2 linked regions of the Homo sapiens genome follow. Each later gene encodes a partner of the first gene's protein in a complex. Each region holds a gene or a part of one and is shown in the gene's direction. Other genes may lie near its edges.

Region 1 (12,649 bases):
ATGATTACTCCCTTCCCCTCTCCTACAGAAGGAATGTACTTCCCTGATATTAATTGAGGTCTTGCATAGTTAGGCTTGTCTCTTGATCTCTTTTTGCAACGAGAACATGACTCAGCTAGCCTCTGGTTTAAAGAGGATGAGAGATATGTGGAACAGACCAGGACCTGACCTAATCCTCAGAGAGCAGCTGAGTCTCGCCAAGACCAGCCAATCTCCAGCTAACCCAAAAATGCATGAGTAGGAAATATGCGTATATTGTTGTATGGCACTAGGACTTTGGGTGTTTTGAAAGTCAGAAAAATTGGGCTGATTCAGAATTTGATGTATAAAGTACAGTGCTGCCATAACTAAAACCCAAAATATGTGGCACTGGCTTTGGGAATGGGCAGCAGGTAGTCATGTAATTGTTATAGGAGGCTGGAATAATGACAACAGTATTATGCAGTGGCAAAACATTTGGTAAAATTGTCACCTGCAATACTATGGAATACAGAACATGCAGATCTAGTAAACTTGTGAATTTGGATGAGGTGATTTCAAAGAAGAATATTGAAGAGCAGGCTGCTGCCAGGTGCCTTTGAAAAAGCATAAGAAAGTGGTGAGCTCAAAATGAACTGCCTGGGTTACAAACAGAATTGAGAGGAAATAGAGAGTTTAGAAATACTGAAAGTTGTAGGCTTAAAAATGAAACTGTTTCTCAACATGTCCCCAGCTCAAAGAAAAAGTAAATTTTGGCCACTGCCAGGGTAAAGACCAAAACAAGGGTGTGGTGCAGGCCCAAGTGCCCTGAAAGCAGACTCTGAGATGGAAAATAGCCTGTAAAGAAGTGCTCTCAGGATCAACACTTGTGGAAGAAAGGAAGCAAACAAGATTGAGCAGAGAAAGAAAGTGGGCTGTAATTAATTTATAAAAAGAACTTAACCAACCCACTGAAGCTAGATTGCTCCTCACAGTTGTTTCCAATAGAGGAAATGAAGCCAAGTCTTTAAAACCCTACATCAATTAGTTATTGCACACTGGCTGCCCCCTGAAGAGAGCATGAACTACACAGGGTGCCTCTTTTCTATTGAGAGTGATTCCCAAAGAAGACTGACAGCTGAGATCAGTAGAAATCCCAGCAGCTAGAGGAATAAATTCTTTAGTCATGAAGGATGATGTTAATGGCACAGTAGATTATCCAATTCAATTCACCCCATGCTCCACTCAGACCTTTATTTTTGCAAAAGTTTTTGAAGCAGCTCCAGAACTTGGGAAGAAAGTTAGCGAGATACATAGATTCCATTGCAAAGACCAAAAGTGATACTCAATATATGCTTCCTGATCTACCATTCTAGAGTTTCCTCACCTTGACTAGCTCCTCTGCTGGTCTTGTTGGCTTACCTGGTGGGATGATCCAGTCACTCATCCTTGAGAGTCACCATACCTTTCTCAGGTCATCAATACTTTACTAGTCAATTTACTGTCAAAGTTGTGCAAGGGCATACCAAGAGATGCCAAATACATTCCTTTTTGCCATCACTGTATAAGAGCAGCCTGACCTCCTCCCAGTATTTAGAATGATAAACCTGCCAGGATGGTGACTGCTCTCGTTGCCTGATCCTTTGGCAGTAGAAGGCAGAAATGCCCCAGTGACAGCCATAGTTTAAAGTTCACTGGGCCTCTTGCTGTGTCTCCTGGTGGAAATGCTCACCTTTTGGGAACAATACCTCTAAACCTACAAATCTCAGAGCTATGGAGATGAGTAGCACAAAATCCCCAATTGGGTCACTGACAATGATGGTAAACAGGACCACCTCTACTTCTACATTTGATTCCCATATCCATAAATTCTATTTGCTGGGAACACAGCAACATATGCTGGCCATTGATTCAGAGGGTATACTGCATAGGGTATTATTGTATCTAAGGTGGTGCTTAAGCTGATTCTTCAACAGGCCATTCCGTTGCTCTATCCGGCCGGCAATTGTTTACAGTTCTGGGTGAAGTGTTATGTGAAAGAATCAGTGAATCACATGGTCACGTGCTCACTACCACATCTCTTTTGCAATAAAATGAATCCCTTTGTTTGATGTGATATTGGGAAGATCCTGTGTCATGAGATCAAACACTCCATAAGTATGGTGGAAGCAGCTGAAGCACTATTGGCAGGAAAGGAAAATCCATACCTGAAATATGTGTCAATTCTAATCAAGATGAATCATTCATTGCCCCTTACATAATAGAAGGGATCCATGTAATTAACTTGTCATTTGATTCTCCTCCATGGATGATTCTATATCAAGGGCTCAATATTGGTCTCTGTTCCTGACAGGTTGGACATTTGGCAGCAGCAATAGCCAAATCACTGTTGGTAAGTGAGAGCTCATGCTGTGGGGCCATCCACAGTCATGATGACTACCCTTCTTGTGCCCATTGTTCCAGCTTTGAGGATAGAAGCTTGTTGATGCCAACCATTGGAGTCATTCTGTTTATTCAGTACCTCTTTTGTGATATATCCTTTATGGTTGGTGTTCACTTGTAATGCAAAAATCTTTACACTTTGTGCCGAGTCCCATAGGTCCATCCACATACTTTCTCATCAGACTTCCTAGTCCTAAACTTTCTAACATTTCTTCTTCCTTAAAGTAGGCTCTTCTACTACTTATCACTGCTATAACAAATTACCATAAACTTAGTGACTGAGACAACAGAAGTATTGTCTCTTACATTTCTGTAAAAGTCTGACACAATTCTTACTGTGCTAAAAATCAAGGTTTTAGCAAGGCTCTGATCCTTTCTGGAGGCTTTAACAGAGAATTCATTTCCTTGTTCCTTCTAAATTCGAGAAGCCTTCCACATTCCTTGGCTCATGGCCCCTTTATTCCATCTTCAAAGCCATTCTTCCATAGTCACATCACTCTCTGGCCATAACCAGGAAAGTGTCTCCTACTTTTAAGGATTCATATGATTAGATTGGACCCAACTGAATTATTCAGGAAAATCCCCCCATTTCAAGGTCCTTAATTTTAATCACATCTGTAAAGTCCCTTTTGCCATTTAAAGTAATATATTCACAAGTTCTGGTATTACGATATAGTCCTCTTTGGGGAGCCACTCTTCTGCCTTCCATGATTTAAGTCCACATGGCAGTCTAAAATATGTCTTTGATCTGTTATGTATCTATGTTTGTGGTTACAGAACATTCACAAGCATTTAAAAATATTCTTTGCACCATATTCTTCCAACAGCTTCCAAATACATTGTTTTATCCCTAAGAATACCTTCACACAAAAGACTGAGTAAAGCTACACTTTAAATATTATCCTTCTTAATCTCTTTGTAATTGTGTTTCTTTGATATGGGTCACTACTAATTTTAACACAGCTGTTTATGTTATTACATAACAACTTTGTGATCTTATTAATTTGTTTATCTTATTATTAAAATCAAATTTAGTAGCTGCTCTGGTCTAAGGGAGGCAAATATTTTATAAATCATTACTACTATATGTTAAGCTCTAATATGAGTTTCACATTCATTATTTTATTCACCTTTAAATGAATCCTATAAAAGAAGTCTAGTATCACTATTTTACAGATGAGAAAACTAATGTTTCCAGTATCACAGAACTAGTTAAGTATCGGAGTAGGGCATACAAATATAGGTCTTTTTGACTCTAAAATGCATACTATTTTCACTATATCCTTAATAAATTCCCATTGAGTAAATTAAATTATTTGTAGAGGTATACTATACATCCAGCACATTTCATGAATTTCTCATGCTGTAGAAATCATGTCCAATGTATTACACAGAAGCCTTGGGCCACTAATAATTCTTGAACTGACATAGTTCAAGACGACCTAGATAGAAGCATACTGGCTAGAAACAAAAATCAATGGTAAATATTTTTATGAAATCACTAGACTTGTTTTTTACTTCATTGTTGGTATCTTCTAATTTGACCTAAATCTACTGTGTGGTCTATAGTGTCCTGTTGCTTAGCAAAACCTGGAACACATTATAAAGAATACCTATTTAATGTTTCCATCAGTCCTGAAACATAGATACATTCTTGAAGACATGCTATTATATTGTTCTAAGACTCTTTGTGAGCAATTTAAATCCTTTTGCCATCTCAGCCCAAATGAAGTGAAGGGTTGTCCAAACAGAAAGTCTGAATAATTCAGCTTCTCTTGGGAGAAAACAAAGTTAATCTCTCTGGAATCTATATAGCTGCAGAATCACTGGACCATTGAACAACTCTCTACTTCACTTTGGTAGTATAGATTTCCAAGATCCATGAGCATAAAATAATTATTTTTAAACTTTCGAATGAAACAGATTTAAAGTAAAACGGATCAAGTATATAACATTAACGTATTTTAATTAAATTTGACATTTAAAACAAAAGATCAGCATATTTTTAAATGAGTATAAAAATTTAAAAATGATCAGCATATTTGAAATGATTTTTAGCTTTCTAAAGTCCATCCATTATTATGAGGCTTAAGAAAGACTTCAGAGGCTGCTTAAACATTTCAATATTTTCATGTAGAGGTTCTTTATCAACCTTGAAATCTGTCAATAAATGTAAATAACAAGAAAATATAAAGTAGGCAGATTTTTCCTACTATGAACCTTGATTTTATCTATATCACTCTTAGTTGAATGGGATAAATTAACACTTTCTTGAAAGTTTCCTACCATACACGTACATTTAATTTTTAAATATTCAGGACCTGCAGAATATACTATGCCTATTAAGGTTTTTTTATTATAATTATAGACCTGTTAGATACTTGATTTGCTTATCAATTCAAATCAATTTAGTTCTGGCCAGGCACAGTGGCTCATGCCTGTAATCGCAGCACTTTGGGAGGCTGAGGCAGGTGGATCACTTGAGGTCAGGAGATCGAGACCAGCCTGGCCAACATGGTGAAACCCCATCTCTACTAAAAATACAAAAATTAGGCTGGGCATGGTGGCACATGCATGTAATCCCAGCTACTCAGGAGGCTGAGGCACGAGAATCTCTTGAACTTGAGAGGCGAAGGTTGCAGTGAGCGGAGATCATACCACTGCACTCCAGTCTGGGCAACTGGAGAGTGAGACTCTGTCTCAAATAAATAAAAACAAATCAATTTAGTTCTATTAGCATGTAGTGAGAGTCCACTATAGGGCAGACTGATATCAAATTTCATGGTATAGTCAGCTTTCTAGTACACTTTATGTACTTCTTAAAAAGAGGATAGGCCAGGCACGTGGCTCATGCCTTTAATCCCAGCACTTTGGGAGGCTGAGGCGGGCAGATCGCCAGAGGTCGGGAGTTTGAGACCAGCCTGGCCAGCATGGTGAAACCCTGTCTCTACTAAAAATACAAAATTTAGCCAGGCATGTTGACAGGTGCCTGTAATCCCAGCTACTCAAGAAGCTGAGGCAGGAGAATCGCTTGAACCCGGGAGGCAGAGGTTGCAGTGAGCCCAGATCATGCCATTGCACTCCAGCCTGGGCAACAGAGTGAGACTCCATCTCCAAAAAAAAAAAGGATATAAAGTAGGAACCTAGATTAATTAATTTGTAGACCTTATGCCCATGCTAAAATTAAACTTTCTAGATCCTATAGGACAGAAAATATAATTTTGTTTGCTCTAATTTTTTTAAATTTAGACCTTTAATTGGGATAGACAGCTCAACAGTCCCACAACTCCTTATTATCCCCAACAGATTTCCTTCACCCATTTACATTAGCTGTATCTAACCCCTGCAAGTATTTGAGTTTCAGCCTCCGAAATCTAATCACTTTATTTTATAATAAGAAAACGAATGGTCACAGAGAATAAATAACTTAGCCAAGGTTACCAGCTAGCAAGTGGCACTGAGCCAGAGTCAAAATCCAAGTATAGTGGCTCTTTGTAAAAGGCAGTGTTTTCATCTTACTATATTTTCATTCTCTTTTTCAGAACCTAACATTTGTCTGAAATAAGGACCCTCCGTAATTTTTTTTAGCTTTCAAAAGTGCCTCGTGGCACTTACAATTTTTATTCATATCCCAAGTTTCAAAATATCATTAACAGATTAAGCACTTTACTACATGCTATTTTGGTGTTTGCACTACTCCCCCGCCTTTCCACTGCCTTTTAGCTGCTCTGAGAGCTGGTAAAGAGAGACGAGAATTATACAATTACATAAGATAAAAGAATGAAAGGTTTAGAGAGGTGAGTAAGAATGAGGGGGTGGTAGGGTCGTGGGCGGGAATAACTGTAGAGGAAGGACAAGGAGAAGGAAAAACTGAGACAGTGGTTCCTGAATATCAAAGACAGGAAGAGTTGAGAAATAAAGACAGCCAGTCATCAAACACTGTTCTTTTATGGGATGTGCTGATTCTGTGTGTGTGTATGTACATGTGTATATATATATACATATATATGTGTGTGTGTGTGTGTGTGTGTGTGTGTGTGTGTGTGTGATTTGCTAAGTCCACTCAAATTTTAGGCAGATTTTTCCCTTAGGCTCATGTAGCCAGTCCCACAAAAAATTATGAAATAGGCAAAACTTATCTTGAAATTCTCCTTTGTACTTTCTTCCATTAAACTGTATTACAAAATGCAGTGCTTTTTTTCTCTGGTTCACCCCAGGCTGAAAACTGGCTCTCTTTGACACTTTAGTTTTAAACCTAACTCTCTCCTGGAGTATTTACATTTGAAGTCCCATCTCTTAATTGTTGAGTAAAAGAACCTCTCTTAAAGGAATTGTTTAAATATCAGTAAGCAGAGAGGTTTGGAATTACTAGAGGGTAAAGGAATCCTTCCTAGAGAATCTCTAATTTCACAACCAACTGTGACTTTAAGAGGTCCAGCTTGTTCATATCTAGCCTAAGTACTCAGCATACTCAGCTCTCTAGGTTACGTTTTAAATTGACAAAAAAGGTACAGAGAGTCTGAGAAGGCAATAACAATCACCAAGCAAACTGGTACATTCATCAAAAGTTAACTAAGGAATGCATCAGTGAAGACATTCATTCTAAATAAGCAGATATAATCCCTGATTTATATTCAATTATTGGTGATTAAGGTGAAGTAGCTTTTCTCATCAATTTATCTACTTAATTATTCAGTAGGGATGTGGACTTTAACCAATTTATGAACAATATCTTATTTCTCTTCATAATTGAGAGAAGCACCAGTAAAATAAGCAGAATTTCCATAAACTGATCAACTGAGATCACTAAAACGTTGATTGCTGTAAACAAAATAATAAAGGTCAATAGAAAAATTGAAGTTTACCCAAACTTTCCAGATTCTGCAGCCAGACTGCCTGGTTTCAATTTAGGTTCTGCCACTTACTTGCCTCAATTCCTTATCTATAGACTTGAAATAATAATAGTACCAAAATCATGTGATTGCTGTGAGAATTAAGTTAGTATTTTAAAGTGTTTAGAACCATGCTAGGCACTCTGTAAGTGCTTGCTAAATAAAATACTATAATTTTATCTCTTTCCTGACTCTGATGGCAGTTACTTAGGTCTACAAAACGGCTCCATAAATCTGATGTATAATTCAAATTGGCATTGAATTTACACGTCTATATCCAGTTAACCTGCTGCCTTGAGCATGGTGCAAGTGAAGAAAATATTATTTTACTTCATTGTATGGTTGTAGCTGTCAACACTTCAAAAATGCATTTTCTCTTAAGGGAAAGTGGACATTAGGGTATAAATGATTTATTGCTACTTGGTTATGTTATGTTTATACAATGAAGGAGAGCACAGTTTTGCCTTCAAAGCCCCTAACACCTTTTTTCAATAGCTTTATTGAGGTATAATTCACATACTGTACAATTCACCCTGTCATCAATAAACAATACTAGTGTTTATTGAATGGCTATTACGTCCCAGGCAATAAACACAAATTGTTTCATTTAATCTTCATAAAAATCCCTTAAGGTAGGTATTATTATACTCAATTTTATGATTCAATTAAAGGGCAAGAACTTTGCAGCTAAAGGTTGAAGTGAGGTTTGAACTTACATCCATGTAGCTCCAATATATGTTTTCCATATTCTGCAGCTTCCCTTCAGAAAATTACTTTGTTCTCTTTCAGAGAGTGACTGGAAAAAGGGGGAAAATGTGACTTTTAGAGGGTAGCCGTGGTTAGAGAAACTCTTAATCTTTTAACCTGTCAGGAGAAAAGCCAGAAATAGCAGTCACTGAAAGTTGTTTTAAAACTCTCAATTCAAGGTTGGCATGATAATGCAAAATAGTATTATTACGCAGAAATAAGCAATCATAATCATAATACTGATATACACAAATCATAATGCCAATATACACTACTTTCACTTGGATTCAGCACTTCCTACTAGCATAACTACACCTACCTTTATCGCATTCTCACCAAATGAGTTAGGGTTTAAAATGGGCAAACGAGAAATGATGTGGGGATTCCGGCCCATCTTTTAGACTTTTCACATCAATATGGTATGTTAAAATCACACCCCTGGACATCATGCTCGGGAATACTTAAGTAATTTTGCCACAATTCATTTACTAAACAAATATTTAGGTAATTTTTACATGTCCATCAGTACTGTGCTAACCACCAGGTGTACAAAGGCTAAAACAAAAGATGAACCCAGTTCCAGCTCTTAAAGAGTTTACATTTTAGTTCAGGCTTTCAGAAGGAGAGGCAGTGAGTGTGCTATACTGTATAGCATGTGGGCTCTTGAACCAGCCTCTCCACTCACCTCTCCACCTGCTGTGTGACCTTGGCATTTGATTTTTAAGCGACTCGATTTTCTATTTTGTAACATAATCGTTGACTTCAAATTAAAGACATATCTAGTTTCATTTCAGGTGTACGGCACCATACGAAGATGGGGCTAAGAAAATGTTACTATCCTGTATAAACAAGAGGGTTTCTCGCACGTTTTCTTCCTTTAGTATCTGGCATTATTCAATACTGTCCATATTCTACTCCCTGTTCACCGATGAACTGGGACATGTTTTTCACTGCAGCTTAGTCGTCTGGGTGTGCCTGGGGAGGCGTCACAAAGAGCCTATAAAGGGTCCCCACCTACAACGGGAGTAAGAGCGCTGGAAGGAACCCAGGAAGGGCATGGAGACCAAGCGTTCGGTTTCGGAGTGTTTTTTGTGTGTGCCCATATTCACCGAGCTTGGGTTCTCCCACTCGTAACGAAAAGCCCAGTCACTGAGCTGCTACATTTTCTGCCATATCTTAGCCGTCCCCACGCCCCCACACCACCGCCCCACCCTACCTCACCCTCAAGCGTGAGTGAATGCGCAAATAAGGGTTTTCAAGGCGTCAGTGGGAAAGAGGGAGGGGAAGGCAACGCTGAGGACGGGAGGACAGGGCGGTGGCATCCCTCTAGCGAGAGAGAGCCAGAGCCCTCGGCGGCGAGGAAAGCTAAAACCCGGCAGTCCCGGGCCAGAGGAGGCCAAGGCAAGATGCTGGACGGGCGGGGACCGATGGGGGGCAGCAGACCATGGCCGCGCACCCAGTGCGCCCCCGGGGCCTCCTCTTGTCCCGAGGAGCACCCCCGCTCCCGGTGTCTTTTGGTTTCGACCGGCCGACTGGGAGGGGCCGTGGGACGCCATTCCCATAATGCTCTGGGGCGTGCCGCCGCCGTCGCTGCCACCTCCCCTACCGCTAGTGGAAGAAGATGGCGGAAGGCGGAGCGGCGGATCTGGACACCCAGCGGTCTGACATCGCGACGCTGCTCAAAACCTCGCTCCGGAAAGGGGACACCTGGTAAGAGAAAGGGGTTGAGATGCCCGCGGTTGCCCGAGGATAGTGGAGAAGTGGGCGGGAGCCGCGAGCTGGTTCTTTCGCTAGTGACAGGTGCGGGCAGGTCCGGCGGCGGCCGCCGGGGCAGCGGGATTTTGGCCGCTTCTGAAATGTTGGGGCAAAGGTTGGACTCTAGATGAGGGTCAGGGTTCTTGGCTTGCCAGGGCATGCTGAAAGGTATCCGGGGAGCGGCGGCGGCGGCGGTTCTGACTCGTGCGGTTCTCTTCGTCCTCCTTCCTTCCGTAGTGCCGCTCCCACCTCAGGCCTTCCCGAATGATAGGTTATAGTGGTTTGGTTTGAGTCTTATATACGCCGTTTTGACAGGTCCCGGTGCCGCGGCTTATCACGATCTCACCGGCTTTACTTCTCTGTTCATTTCCTTTCCTAGAATTGTCGGCGTCCAAGTTCCCTTTTATTCTGATTCTTGGTCTTCCGGGAGGCAGGCTGCAGGATGTTTGCGGTCTGTACTACACAGGTGGCATGTCAGGGCTCCACATAAGAGAAAGAAACCCTAGTTTCCAGTTCCTTGTCAAAGGAGGGAGAGGAGTAGGGAACCTTGGGCTTATGAGAGACCACGTGGTCTTGTGCTTTAGTGGTGGCTTGATAGAAGCCGGCAGCGTTTCTGTTAGACGTGCAGCCCTTCCCTTCTGTTTGAAAGATAATGTAGGCCTGCAAAAAGTAGATAAGTCCACTTGAGGCTTAACTAACTGCTAATATTCAAACTTGTAAAATACCAAAGGTTATACATTTAAAATACTGAAGGATGTATGTGGACATTTTCACACTTGTCGACCATATCAAGTGGCATCTACAATAACTTAAATATGTGAATATGTAACATAATTTAAAATTCCTTATTTTTTGGGAAGCATAATGTGCCTCTTCATTATAATAAAACATATTTTCACTTTCCACTGTTACCATAACAGTAGTATATAATTCATAGAGTGTTTCAGTATGGCATAGTGAAAGGAACAGTAAGATTTAGACCTGAGTTATGTCACAGTTTCACCACTCAACTTGCAGTATGGCTTTGAGGAGAGTTAATTTAAATCATTGCACCTCATTATCTTCATGCTGTAAAATGGACAGTAATTTTATTATAAGGATTTTATCTTGATTCGTTTTAATATCTTAAGAATTTCATATTTATGAGATATCAAATTTTAGTTATCCTCTTATCTCTGCTCTTTACTCCTGACAAAAGGCTGTGATATTGGGATCATTTTCAGTTAAGCTAATAGGTGGCAGACTTAGGACCTTAATTTAACCTTGATCTAAGTCTTAGTCTCTTTTTTCTTTTTTGGTAGGCTATATACTATGTTTGTATGATAGAAATCCCTAAGGATGTAAATACATACTTGTTTCATTATATCAAAAAAATAGAATCTTCAAGTGACTTAATAATAGTTATTGTTGGCCTGGCAGGGTGGTTCACGCCTGTAACCCAGCACTTTGGGAGGCCGAGGAGGGAGGATCACTTGAACTCAGGAGTTCCAGACCAGCCTGGGCACCATGGTGAAACCCCGTCTCTACAAAAATACAAAAAAATTAGCTGGGCATGGTGGCACGCCTGTGGTCCCAGCTACTCAGGAGGCTGAGGTGGGAGGATTGCCTGAGCCTAGGAAGCGGAGGTTGCAGTGAGCCGAGATCCGGCCACTGCACTCTAGCCTGGGCAACGTGAGACTCCATCTCAAAAAAAGAAAAAAAAAAGTTATTGTTTTTATTATAATGTTAGATGTTTATTACTGTGGGGAAATTGGACATTTCCTAGGACACCCATGTTTACCTTGGCTTGTGGTAATGACAAATAAGTCCCCGCTGGCTATTGTAAGTTAAAGAACATTTAAAAATTCTTAATTCACCCAACCTAGTACCACCTTATTTTAAAAAGTGAATTTCCTTAAAATAGAAATCTGTAAGTCTATAAGTTAAAATATAAGTGTTATTGTCTCTCATTAATGTCACGTTTTTGTATATAGAGTAATTGGTAGCATTGACACTACAGGATGATAGGAGCAATATGTGCATTGTGGGCGTTTAACTTTATGAAGTTTGGTATTTTCAAATAAGTATATTTTTGCTTTTTTACAAAATTAATGTAAATTGTTTTATATATGTGCGTGTGTGTGTGCGTGTATAGCTGTATAGGTACAGTGTCTCACTATATTGCCCATGCTGATCTTGAACTCCTGGCTTCAAGTGATCCACCTCAGCCTCCCAAAATGCTAGTATTACAAGTATGAACCATGACTAAATACAAGAGGCTCATAAATTTAAGTCATTTCAGTGCTTTTATTTTAAATAAAAGTAAACTGAGGGCCACATATTTAGATAAAAGCAGATTGTGCAAGTTTATCCTCACGTTAATTTTCTCTTAAAGGAAAAAAACTGCAAGAGAAAGATGGTACTGGGAGTTGCAGAAACCAGTTTGGTTTATTTGTGAGCCAGTTTATTTGCAAATTAGCAAGTGAAACCTGTCCAAAAACAAAGTAGTAGAGAGCAAAAATTTGATTCAGAATTTTAAAGAGAATAATTTGATAAGTATAAATTTGATGATGAACTTACAGGTACAGAACTGGTGGTGATATGTAATAATTTAGTTTATGTTTTTGGAACTCACTAGAAAGTTGTTTTTCCTTTTAATATCTTTTTTTAATCTTTGAATCAGGTTATTTGAAATTTGCCCTGTGGAATATTGTCGTGGCATATGTATGTAACTGTCTAGGAAAGACTGATTGGGCTGTTGAGAAAAAATGGTGGGTTTACCATAAGTTTATTCTTGAAAGTTTAATACACATGTCTGAAGTTATAGTCATATGCATCACAGTGAATAAATTTCATTTACTAGCTTTTGAGCACTT
Region 2 (12,756 bases), about 46 Mb from region 1:
TTTCTGATCACAATTCACAGTCCCCTAAGGGCCAGGTTCTGGGAGCAAAAGTGCCTTGTCTCATTTCTCCCTTCACCTGAGGACAGTTCCTGACAAATCACTTCAGAGCTACCTCCTGCCACAGCAGGTTAGGTCTGAGCTTCCTGGCCCACAGGGGCTTGCCAGCCAGAAGGCCGTGAGCCACAGGAAGCAGGTGGCACGTGGCCTGGCAAACTGCTCTGCTGTGGAGCTGGCCAGCTTCCAAGCATGCTCCTCTGTGACTCAGCTCCCTGAACCTGGTCCCTTGGGGCAGCAAAGATGAGTGCCTTGCTGGTTGGCTTTTCTGAGAGGTTTTGACAGCAACTGGATTTTAGAAAGTCCAGCTCTTCACTGTGTTTGGGACCTTTGACCTCTGCAGCTACCAGGGAAAGACACTTGGGAGACAAAGGGATGAAAAAGAAGTTCTAGCTCTTTATTATCTCTGCCTTTAGAGGGCTTGCGATCAGCCACCTGGATCACTGTTCTGATTTCGTTGTTCACTTTGCCCCCACCCTTGCTGTCTTTTTGATTATTTAATCCCTCTTTTAACACAGGCTAGTTTATTTCACCAATTCTTGAAAGCCACCTAGAACCCTTCCTGAAACATGAGAGGAAATAAACAAGAAAATAACTACCTTATAACAACTCTCTGACTTGAGAAATTATAAGAGCACTGGTAACCTTAGAGAAAGCCAAAGATTTCTTTTAAATTCTATTTTGTTAGAGGGACAGGTGAGGATCTTTTTTATATGTAATTAACACCCAAACAAACAAAAAAATAAAAATGATCAACAAGAAAAAAACCCAAACAACACCTAGTAGAATGATCCATAATTCCCAATTTGAAGAAATGATAATATAATCAACATCTGCATAGGAGAAATTTTAAAAATTTAGAATATTAAAAAAAAGTCATGGTTACTTGTTTTTGACCCATTAGATTTGTGAGCCACCTTACCGTCTTTCCTTTCACCCATTCAGTGGCTAATGAGCTGGAGGCAATTGCGGAACCACAGCCAAATGTTTTAAACCTAGCATCCACAATCTTCCCCTTTTCATCCACTTGAATCTAGAAAAGAGACAAGAGTTAAGTGGTGAGTCCTGGGACCACCCTCTGGAACCTGGCACTCACGAAGGTTCACCAGGGCCTTCCCCAAGGGCTTTGGGCTTGCTTTCCACACTAAGTGATGGCATTAATTACTGACTTTGCCTTGTTTCAAAGAGCTCAGTGATGAAAAGTGAAATGCAGGGACAACTATCCAGGCCCAACTGACAAAGATCAGCTGAAAAATATGTCCCTCCACTCCAATATTCTTTTGTTTTGTGACTCTGGCCTGCATTTTGGCTATGAACTTCTATTTGTGGAAGTCTGCTCACAGCTGCTGGGGCAATCTGGCCTCTTTAAACACTGACAGAGTCCACAATAAAGGTCTCTGGTTAATACTTTTTTCTTGGGCAGCAGATTACACTTAGTGGTTTCCTCCTGTTTTGTTTCTGTATTCCAAGATAGGTATGAAGACCTCTGGCAAGCTGCCCACTCACCATGAAGCAGCAGATTGGTGCTACAACTACAGTTTACCCAAAGCACTAGACACTATTTTCATGTTTCCCCCAATCTGGGGACAGGTTTAATTTACTGTGTTTCTTGTTTCATTGGGGACTGCTAGCTCACTGGGATTTTCCTTTGATCAGTAAAATTCACAAAACTCTTTAGTTGGCTGAAGTCAGAATTTAAACTGATACAGTGAGTACAAAAATGAGATTACTTTTCTATTTTGGAAAAAGTTGGCATAGTACACTAGCCTAGCAGGAGAGCTACGATTGAGGCCCTGCTCCAGTCATATCTAACATGGACTCATCCCATCTCACAGGAATGGAGACCAAGTGAAATGCTTGGAGATCTCACAGGAATAAAGATGGAGACCAAGTGAAATGCGCAAGTGCTTTGTAAACTTAAAGGGATTATTGTTATCACTATTAAAAAAGACTAGCCATACCTGTAATTTCATTACGTCACCACATGCTGGAGCCCCCACCAGTCCAGTTCCAACATTTTTAGATGTCTTGTCAAGGGACCCCACGTTTCTAGGATTTTCATAATGATCAACAACCTAAAATGAGAGGGTTAAGATAAATCATGTTCACTCTCTATTGGTACTGGTCTCTGGTTTGATGGTAAGCTCCTCGGTCAGCATCTTGAACCTGGCAGGCAATCACTAAATACCAAATTTCACCTGAGTAGAAAGGTCTACACTCATGTCAATGAGAACCATTTGTGACCCCCAATTCCTTTTGTGTCTCCTCTACAATACTTCACAGATTTGAGATACCTAGAAGAAAAAAAAATCAGTGAAATCATGTCTTAGTTCCATAGGATTTTTACAAAAATACTTGACTTTCACCCACCTACATCACCAGACTTGGGCTCAAACAGCAGTTTTGTTATTTTCAAATAAAATCCATCCTCAAAGGATGATTACTATTTAAAAATTCTAAAAATAACCATGGCCCAGGGAGGGAAAGCTTTCTTAGAAGCCTTAAGGTGACTGTTACACAGGGAACAATGCTATGGAATGTGTACGTTTATGTGTCTTTTAAAATAAAAACAGTGCCATTACCGTATTTCACAGCCTGTCATCACCCTGGTGCAGCAGCGCACCCTGGCTGCTGAAAGGCTGCTAGTCCAAGTTTCTTCAGGGTGTACCCTCAACAAAACACACCCCCGGGAGGGGGAGGAGTGAAGAAGCCCTTGGAGAAAGGGCAGAAGCCAGATCACAATAAACATCCATTCGAACTGGCACACAGAAGGCCTTAATAACCTTGAGGTTTGGTTACTGGTTAGTAGTAAGCACGCCGATCTTCCAGTCCCCTTTTCCCCCCATCTGACTAAGGATTTTGACTCCAAGTAAAAGGGACCTCAGGATAGTATCTAATGTAGGGGCCTTTTGTGCCACGTTGATTTATGGCATTCTTTAGTTGTTTCTCGAGTGGGAGTCTCACGTCTGGGGGACTTTGTGCCACCAGACAGCAAGGGGCTGCAGACTATGAATCTATCCCTCCTTCCCCGCCAAAAAACCCCCCAAACAAAACAAAAACATTACGCATGTTGGTTACAAGCCTGACTCCCCTATGCACTCCTAAAGCAGTAACAGAAACGGTCTCCTCGTGCTGGGGCCTATGTGCCAGGAACCATGCCAGGACTCCACGCACAGTATCCTTTGTAAGGGACAGCTGAGAGCCCCCCATTTACACCTGGGGAAACAGGTTCAGAGAGGCGCAGTGACTAGCCCAAGGTCATCTGGCCAGGGCAGCGGAGTGGCTGAAGCCGGAGCCCGCTCCGGGGGTGTGTCTGTCCCTGGACTCAGAAAGACAAGTCCCAACAGGACCCTGCCTCCTGGGCTGTTGGCGAATTTAAAATTGGGACGCACGAAGTCGCGGCCAGCGGCGGGGCCCCCTGGAAGTCGCCGCCCGATGAGCGGTAACTGTTGTTTATCAGTTGCAGTGAGCCTCACTGCGCAGCAAGGGAAAGCGAGTCAGGGCAAAGACGTGGGAGGGGACAGCTCCCAGTCCTAGCTGCGCAGAACCCCGCGGCCGCCCCTCCAGCCCAGGCCTCCGCTGAGTCGGCATTCCGCGCGTCCCTCTTTTGTCCCTACCTTCTTGTGATAGAGTCGGGCCGGGGCCGACAGCTCCCGGGCGGGCAGGCGGGGGCTCCGCAGCAGCAGAGCCGATGCCGCCCGCCTCAGACGGAAAGCCCCAGCCGCCGCCATCTTGCCGGCTTGCGCCTGCGCCAGTCCAGAGCGACGCCGAGGGGCGGGGCGCGTCTGCGAGTCGGCTCCGAGCTGGGAGCGCGCCTCTCTGACGTCACCGAAGCTTTGCGCCTGCGCTTTACCGCTCCGTGCACGCGTCCGCCTTCTGGCCCCGCCTTGACCACGCCTCTCGGGGGCGGGCGGGGTCGGGAGCGGGAAGGTCTGAAGTCGCTGGAGGGCTTGTCCTGGGTGCTGGATTCTGGTTGAGACAGGACCTCAGGGCTTCTGCAGTGTGGGGCTCAAGTTCGCTTTCACAAATCCCGCTGCGGGAATGCGGCGCAGAGGAGCACCGAGTCCACTTTTCCTAACCCTATTTTGCAGCTAAGGAAGCCGAGATTCAGGGCAGTTTAGTAAGTCCGTCCAAGGTCGCTAAGGACTTATGTTCAATTAGAATTCGAACTTGGGTAATCCTGGGTTAGAATCCTGGTTCGGTTCCTTCCTGGCTGTGTGTCCCTAGACGAATGGTACCGGCTCGCTGAGTCTGAATCTTCCCTTTTGTATTAATTCGAGGACAATTGCTTCATCATGAAGCCAGCATCTGTGTCGAGTACCTACTATGTGTCAAGGCGCTCTACTAGACCCGGGGATCCAACGGAAAGCAAAACAGACATAATTCCTGCCCATTAAGCCTGCTAATGAGGGAGCAAGGTAGAGATAGAGACACACACCAATACTTTCCTACCTCAAAAATGGGAAGCTTAAGAAGGAAACGAATACCATGTCCTGATTGAAAAAAAATGAATATGTCTATTTTTCTCTCTAAAACAACAGCAAACTCAATTTATATGTCAGTGCCTAGCAATTAAGAATTTCTAAAGAAATGCGTATTAATGTAATTTACTGTTGGTTTGCAGTATGTGATCTTATAAAACCGGAAAACTCACGTGTATTTAACGTCTACTAGGTACCAGACGTTTACATAAAGGGGAGGAATCTGGGAAATGGATTTTTCTCTTGAATGGTGAAATCGATCCTTCCCCGAGGACCTGCAGTTTTCTTTGCGTTTGAGGCGCAGTTGCTGGGGAGAGTAAACCCAAGCGCCAGGTCACACTAGGCGATAAGTAAGGCATTTAATCGAAGAATCACTTTGACCTTCTCAAGATGGCGCCAAATTCTTCACTACAGACATCACTCTCGCTCCATGACTTCCTCTATGGCTTCCACTTCCTGCCCAAAGACCCAACTTCTGTCCGAAGTTGTGACGGAACGCATGCCATTATAATGAGTTTTTATATCTGGTGGGAGCTTTTACAGGGTATAAAATAATGTGAATTTAGTGTATGTGGAGATTTTCCTGTTATCTAAGTTCCCAGTTTCTCTTTCAATGGCAAGAAAACGGGTTTTTGATAAGGCGCGCGCCGCGGGCAGCTTCTGCCTCAGCGGGTCTTCGGCGGCCGCGGGAAGACCCGAGAGTCATTAGAAGCGCAAGATGGCGACTGCGGCCGAAACCTCGGCTTCAGAACCCGAGGCTGAGTCCAAGGCTGGGCCCAAGGCTGACGGAGAGGAGGATGAGGTTAAGGCGGCTAGGACAAGGAGGAAGGTGTTATCGCGGGCTGTGGCCGCTGCGACATACAAGACCATGGGGCCAGCGTGGGATCAGCAGGAGGAAGGCGTGAGCGAGAGCGATGGGGATGAGTACGCCATGGCTTCCTCCGCGGAGAGCTCCCCCGGGGAGTACGAGTGGGAATATGACGAAGAGGAGGAGAAAAACCAGCTGGAGATTGAGAGACTGGAGGAGCAGGTGGGCCCGGGGGTGGGCAGCGGGCATCTTCCAGTCTTTCAGGTCCTCGGGTCCCCATGTCCTGGCCCGCCTCCCTAGTCCTCGGCGGCGATAAAGCCGCCAAGGCTGCAAACCCGCTTTTCGTGACAGTAGCTCCTGTCGGATTTGAGTGCTTACTGCCTGCCCATTGCCTTGCAAACGTTATCTCATTGAATCCTCGCCACGACCCTGTGAAGGAAGCCCTGTTATCTATCCCCATTTTACTGGAGGAAACTGAGGCTCGTGGAGGAAAGTTTCTTGCTCAAGATAACACTTCCTGCAAGTCAGGCCTTGTACTTTGATCCCATTCCAGAACTCCCACTCTTAACCACACGTCCAACAGTAGAAATAAACTCATTCGCAAGAGAGTGTTATTTTGTTATGTAGGAATGACGGCGATGATGAAACTTGTGGTAAGAAAAATATTGACCGCGATGGTGATAATAGAAATGGAAAGGTTTCTGGTTCTGGAGGTTAAGGCCTCAGTTCTAGCTGTTCAACTCTTGTATGTGCTTGTAAGAATTTCTTAATTTCTCTCACCCTCTCGACTTCCTTATCTGCAGATTGGGAGCAACAATTTCTGCATAATATAATTGTTGTAACAGTAACTATAGCTCAGTGCCTAGCATCTAGTCATAACATGGTCTCTCACTTGTAACCTTATGAGGTGGTGATATCTACTGTATAATCCAGGATCTCAGCAGGAAATAGGTGGCACATTTAAATTAGGATGATCTGAGAGAAACTCAATAAAGGTGTGGGTAGGGAAATCGGGAGTGAAGGTTTAGTATCCCATAGCTGGTAACTCCAGAACCTGGTGTCCATCTTTGGGCCGGAAGGGGTGAAGGGTGTGATCTGAATTGTGTGGAGAGGGCACCTGAGACCTGCTGATAACTTTGTTCAAGGGAAGCAGCCCCAGTTTCCTGTCAAGGATTGAGGTGGGGGAAGAAATACCCTGACCTCTCTTTCTTCCTCCCACCAAACTTCTGCTGGTGCCTCCTGCTGGGCAGACCCATCTGGAAGCTGGAGAGCCAGGAAACCTGTGCATGAGGTCTATACTCGGGGACACAGGGCAGGGAGGAGAGGGTAGGGTGTTTTTTGGAGGGGGCAAACAGAAGAGATGGAGCACATTCTCTCTTTTTTTTTTTTTTTTTTTTTTTGAGACAGAGTCTCGCCCTGTCACCCAGACTGGAGTGCAATGGCACCATCTCGTGTCACTGCAACCTCTGCCGCCCTGGTTCAAGCGATTCTCCTGCCTCAGCCTCCCCAGTAGCTGGGATCCAGGCACGCACCATTGCGCCCGGCTGATTTCTGTATTTTTAGTAGAGACGGGGTTTCACCATGTTGGTCAGGCTGCTCTTGAATTCCTGACCTCAGGTGATCCACCCACCTTGGCCTCCCGTAGTGCTGAGATTACAGGTGTGAGCCGCTACGCCCGGCCCGCATTCTCTTTTTACAGATGAAGAAACAGAGGTTCAGAACAAATGATGAAATGATTTCCTTTAAGTTATTCATAGTGGGATTTACACTTAAAATGTGGACTAGATGCCACACTGGATGTGAAATCACTCAGTGAATGTGAAGTTGCTAATCTAGTTTACTCATTAAACCTTACTGAGTGTCAGTTTCCTTATAATACTCTCTCTGGCACTGATATTTTTGTTATGAGATAGTGATGTCATCCATTGGTATAGCTTGTCCCACCCATTACATCTGATTGTCAGAGGAACCTGTTGGGGTTGGCAGGTGGTTAGCATTTCTACTTTTTTTTTTTTTTTTTTTTTTCTTTTTTGAGACGGAGTCTTGCTCTGTGGCCCAGGCTGGAGTGCAGTGGCACGATCTCGGCTCACTGCAAGCTCCGCCTCCCGGGTTCATGCCATTCTCCTGCCTCAGCCCCCCGAGTAGCTGGGACTACAGGCGCCCGCCACCAAGTCCGGCTAATTTTTACTATTTTTAGTAGAGATGGGGTTTCACCGTTTTAGCCAGGATGGTCTCGATCTCCTGACCTCGTGATCCGCCCGCCTCGGCCTCCCAAAGTGCTGGGATTACAGGCGTGAGCCACCGCGCCTGCCCTCTACTTTTTATAAATAAGTGTGCTGAAGCTAATTTAGTCTTACTCATTCAGCAAACACAGCGTGACACTGGGTACCAGATTGACTGTGTCCCTGCCCTTGTTGATGTCATTTCTTCAGACTGCTAGTCCTGGGCCTTTCGATGAGCCTATTCTGTGAGGTGGGGAAAGAGAGGTTTGGGACCAGAGAGGTTAAGTCCTTGGTGAGGGTACACAGCTTGCTAAAGAGCAAGAAAGGGGAGAGCAGAGGTCTCTGGCCACTAGTACTCTGCAGTTGCCTGTCCTGCCACAGATCACCAAGGATGGGGTGGAGTTTAGAATGGACCACACAGGATAGGACCTGGCAAGTGATGAACTGAAGACCCTCTGGCCTTATCCTCTTTGTCCTGTGGTCTAGAAATGGACTTGTCCAGTTTCTCCAAGCCTCCCACCCACCTCATCCTGATCCCACAGCTGCTTCTTCCTGCTGTAACTGCTTTTATGGCGGAGCATAATGATGAATTGCTTCCAAATAGGTCTGTGAGAAACTTGGCCTTGCCATATTTGAGAGTTCTGGTTCTCATCCCTCAGTGTTTATTAATTTTTTTTTTTGAGAGCATCTCACTCTTGCCCATGCTGGAGTAGTGGTGTGATCATGGCTCACTGCAGCTAGGACCTCCCAGGCTCAAGTGATCCTCCCAGCTCATCCTCCAAAGTATCTCGGACTACAGGCATGCACCCCCATGCCTGGCTAATTAAAAATATTTTTTTTTTGTAGAGATGGGTTCTTACTATGTTGCCCAGGCAGGTGCTGAATTCCTGAGCTGAAGTGATGCTCCTGCCTCAGCCTCCCAAAGTGCTCGGATCACAGGCGCAAGCTACTGCACGTGGCCTTGATTATATTTTATGGTAGCTGGCAGTTTGCTGTGGTATCTGTCTAACAAAAGCAAATATTTTCCATTATATGTGTTTGTGCGCTGAAATTAAAAGTGGCACTTCATGGTGGCTTCGGCAGATTTGTCAGTGCAGCAGTACGGAGACTATGGCTTTGCAACCCTGAACCCAAGCCTTCCATTGAGTAGTGGAAAGGCCTTGTACAAGTTATTTCAGCTCGCAGAGTCTTGGGTGTCCCAGTTAGTAAAATGAAGGTTGTAATAGTGCTTTCCTCATGGGACTGTTGTGGGGCATGGCACAATGTGCGTAAAGCGCCTGGCACAGTTTGGCGCATAATAGGTGCTGCTCCATTCTCCCTTCCCTGCCTTTGATTGCACCAGTTGTTTTCTTTCCATCAGTCCTCTCTATTATTTCTCCCCCATTCTAGTACAGCTAGGTATAACACATTTTTCACATTGCTAGGGAGTTAAATCAGTTAGCAGATCATTTTGTGATTGGTTAAGTTTCCTTTAAAGCATCTATGTTGTTAATCCCAGCTACTCGGGAGGCTGAGGCAGGAGAATCGCCTGAACCCGGGAGGCAGAGGTTGCAGTGAACTGAGATCACACCACTGCACTCCAGCCTGGGTGACAGAGCAAGATTCCACCTCAAAAAAAAAAAAAAAAAAAAAAAAACTATGTCATTAATGATGTTCTAAGACCAGAATAGACCAGCATATGTACTCATTTATCAGTATAGATTGAACTATGTGGAAATAGCTCTTTTAAGTGCATTTCAGTATGTATTTAATATATGTACTTTCAGAGTACTTGTCCACATATAGTATCTTCATCATTTTACCCTAAAAATCAGAAGTTTACACCAAAAGCCACACCTTAAAAGTCAGCTTCTTGACTTTAGCGACTTTTATACCTTTTTCTTCTGCTGATCCACACATGGTGTTCATGTGAGGGGCACTTGCATGCATAGATATTCGTGACACTGACTAGCAAGTGCTCTCCCACTCCTGTTTGTGCTCCGCAAGCACACTCTATTGAGTTCAGACTGGTGATGTGGTGGGGAGAGCCTTGAATGTTCTTTAATGAAGAAAGTGTATCCTTCTCAAACTTCACTTCTCAAACATCCCAAACTGCGGTTACTTTGTGTGACACACTTGATAGGTGATTTTGAAACATCAGTGTGTCATGATAGCCCATTTAAGAACCAGAGCTTTAGCCCAGCTCTTTCATGGTACAGATGAGGAAACAGAACAAGTGGGGATTAGAACACTTGTGTCCTGATCTGGTCCAGTGCTTTTCAGCCTATCGTGTGATCATCGGATGAGTTCAGCTTCTCAGGTTTTATGAATCATAAGCAGGAGAACATTGCTAAAAGTCTTAAGATTTAAAACTTAGAGATCATGTTCTTATCTGTAATTGATTATTATCTTTTGGCATGTAATTTGATAAATACAAAGCAGTTCACATCATGTACAAGAGTTTCTCACCAGATGCAGTGGCTCACACCTGTAGTCCTAGCATTTTGGGAGGCTGAGGCAGGATGATCCCTTGAGCCCAGGAGTTTGAGACCAGACTGGGCAAGATGGTGAGACCCTGTGTTTACAAAAAATAAATTTAAAACATTTAGCTATGTGTGGTGGCATGAGCTTGTAGTAGCAGCTACTCAAGAGGCTGAGGCGGGAGGATCACTTGAGCCTGGGAATTTGAGGCTGCAGTGATTTGTGACTGCCACGGCACTCCAGCCTGGGTAAGAGTGAGACCCTGACTCAAAAAAAAAAAAAGAGAGTTTCTCAAAGTCACTGTTTTTCAACCTGGGGGTCATAGTCATAGGTTGTGAATTTATTTTAGCTGAAACAGCAAGTGCCACCTGAGCCATAGTGTTTTTCAACTGCATGGGTCTGTTTTGGGCTCTCTCTTCAGTTTGTCTATCCTGTGCCAATTCCACTGATTAACTTATTGCTAAGGCTTGCTATCTGGTAAGACAAATCCTCCTACCTGCTTTTTTTCTTTCCTTGCAGGGTGTTTTGGCTCTTTCATATAAATTTTAGAATTATTTTGTCAAGGTCTGTGAAAAACCCTGTTGGTTTTTTTATTTGAATTGCATTGAATTTATGGATTATTTAGGGGAGAATTGACGTCTTTGCCATAATGATTATTCTAACCCAGAACATGCATATAACTCCATTCGTCTAGGTATTGAATATTCTTTCTATTTTTGAGACATGGTCCTGCTCTGTTTCCCAGGCTGGAGTACAGTGGCATGATCTCAGCACACTGCAACCTCCGCCTGCTGGGCTGAAGCGATCCTTTCACCTCAGCCTTTCGAGTAGCTGGGACCACAGGCATGTGCCACCAGACTCAGCTAATTTTTACAGTTTTTGTAGAGACGGGGTTTTGCCCTGTTGCCCAGGCTGGTCTTGAATTCCTGGACTCAAGTGATCTGCCTGCCTCGGCCTCCCACAGTGCTGGGATTACAGGTGTGAGCCACCGCCCCCGGCCAAGTCTTTAATATCTTTCAATCAAGTTTAAAAACATTTTGCCATAGAGGTCTCACACATCTTTTGTTAGATGTATTTCTAGGTACTTTATAGTGCTTGATGTTTATGCTATCCTATTTAAAATTACATTTTAAAGCTTGCTGGTTTATAGAAATGTAATTTTTTTATTGTAAAAAACATATAACGTAAACTTTGCTATCTTATTCTTAAGTGTATGGTTCAGTAGTGTTAAGTATAGTCACATTGTTGTGAAGCAGATCTCCAAAGTTTTCATTTGCATATATACAACTCTACCAATTAAACAGCTCTCCTTCTCCTTCCTTCCCAATCCCCTGATAACTACCATTGTAGTTTTCTGTCTCTATGAATTTGACTAGATACTTCATATAAGTGGAATCATACAGTATTTGTCTCTTTGTATATAATTGATTTTTATACATTGCTCTTATTGCTTGTCACTTTGCTAATCTTGTTTATTATTTCCAAATGATTTGTTTGTAGATGAGTTTTGGTTTACTATACATTGATATCATCTGACCATAATTAACAGTTCTCATTCTTTTCTCTATATCTGTTTCTTTTCCTTGTCTCATTGTTAAAACCCCAGACCTCCAGTACAGGGTTAAATAGAAGGCAATACTGGGAAGTTTTTTGTGTTTTTTAAAAGGAATTTTAATGTATTATTAAATTTACTAAATATAAATATATAAATATATAATAAACAATATAATAAATATATAAATATGTTATTAAAATATATTTATTGCAGATTTTAAAAATCAGGTTAAGGAAGTGCCTTTCTATTCCTAGTTTGCTAATTCTTAATTTTGACTCATGAATGGATGTTTTAATCAAATGCTATTTCTTCATTGAGGTAATCATGTTTTTTTCCCTCAAATCTGATGGTGGAAAAATTATACTGGATGATTTTGTAGTGTAAAAACACCCTTGCATTCCTGGGATAGACCCAAATTGATCATTATGTATTGTTCTCTTTATACATTTCTGATTTTTTAATATTTTATTTAGGATTTTTGTATTAATGCTCTTGAGTGAGATTGACATGTAATTTATTGAATTCTGTGTGCCAGGTAGGTAAAGAATCTAACCAAGTCAAGGATAAGACATACAAGGTACTTATCCCATGAAGCCTTTAGGTCATGATGGAAATAAACACGATGATGAGATGGAAAACAGCTTGCAGCATATAGGGGGCTACTTAAGAAAGAGTGGCATAGGAGGGGGGCCGGGGGCGCCCTCTGAGGAAGTGAAGTTTATACCTGAAGTATGAAAAGGGGTGGCTAGGCAGAGAGAAGGTGAGAGATCCTTCTGGGCTGAAGGAGCAGCAGGTGCCTAGCCCTGAGGTTGGAGAGACGTTGGAATGTTTGAGTTACACGAAGCTGGCTGCCATGTTGAGAGGCCGGTGGTTTGAGATGTAGCTGGAGAGATGAGCCCAGCATGCTGGGATTGCACATGAGGCAGGGATTTGCAAATTGTTCCTAGGATACTGGGAAGCCATGGAAGGGTTTTACTATTATAATTAGTAGAGAAAGATAATGAGTTCTTGTTTAAAATCTAAACACTTGAACAAAACCCCGTAATCCTTCATATTTGTATTCTCTGAATGGTTGGTCCTTGTCCCCACTCCATTTAAAGGTTCACTGGCTACTTCATTGTTAAGATTTTTATCCTAAAGTTCAAGTAATCATATTCATTGGCTGTCTTTCTGTAT

The links.
Region 2: the proteins of USP15 (region 1) and SART3 are in contact, whole or in part, in a crystal structure (PDB 5JJW), measured with the Homo sapiens proteins. Residues at the interface, in NP_001239007.1 of Homo sapiens: Ser23 (codon at 9,727), Leu24 (codon at 9,730), Asp48, Trp50, Gly121, Met122, Phe123, Val124, Lys125, His126, Lys128; in NP_055521.1 of Homo sapiens: Ser438, Ser439, Lys440, Glu443, Gln490, Arg493, Glu494, Trp496, Asp497, Met500, Thr501, Ala505, Trp511, Tyr514, Arg533, Cys537.

Annotation. Positions count from the first base shown.
Region 1 is NC_000012.12:62,250,755-62,263,403, forward strand, and holds the start of USP15 (ubiquitin carboxyl-terminal hydrolase 15), read left to right. Parts: upstream 1-9,649; 5' UTR 9,650-9,660; coding exon 9,661-9,749; intron 9,750-12,649. Other genes in the region: TAFA2 (chemokine-like protein TAFA-2), read right to left, coding at 8,009-8,088, 8,725-8,790. UniProt on the Homo sapiens protein: Hydrolase that removes conjugated ubiquitin from target proteins and regulates various pathways such as the TGF-beta receptor signaling, NF-kappa-B and RNF41/NRDP1-PRKN pathways.
Region 2 is NC_000012.12:108,553,652-108,566,407, reverse strand, and holds the start of SART3 (spliceosome associated factor 3, U4/U6 recycling protein), read left to right. Parts: upstream 1-5,234; 5' UTR 5,235-5,253; coding exon 5,254-5,565; intron 5,566-12,756. Other genes in the region: iron-sulfur cluster assembly enzyme ISCU isoform 2 precursor, read right to left, coding at 977-1,087, 2,016-2,129, 3,672-3,785. UniProt on the Homo sapiens protein: U6 snRNP-binding protein that functions as a recycling factor of the splicing machinery. Promotes the initial reassembly of U4 and U6 snRNPs following their ejection from the spliceosome during its maturation.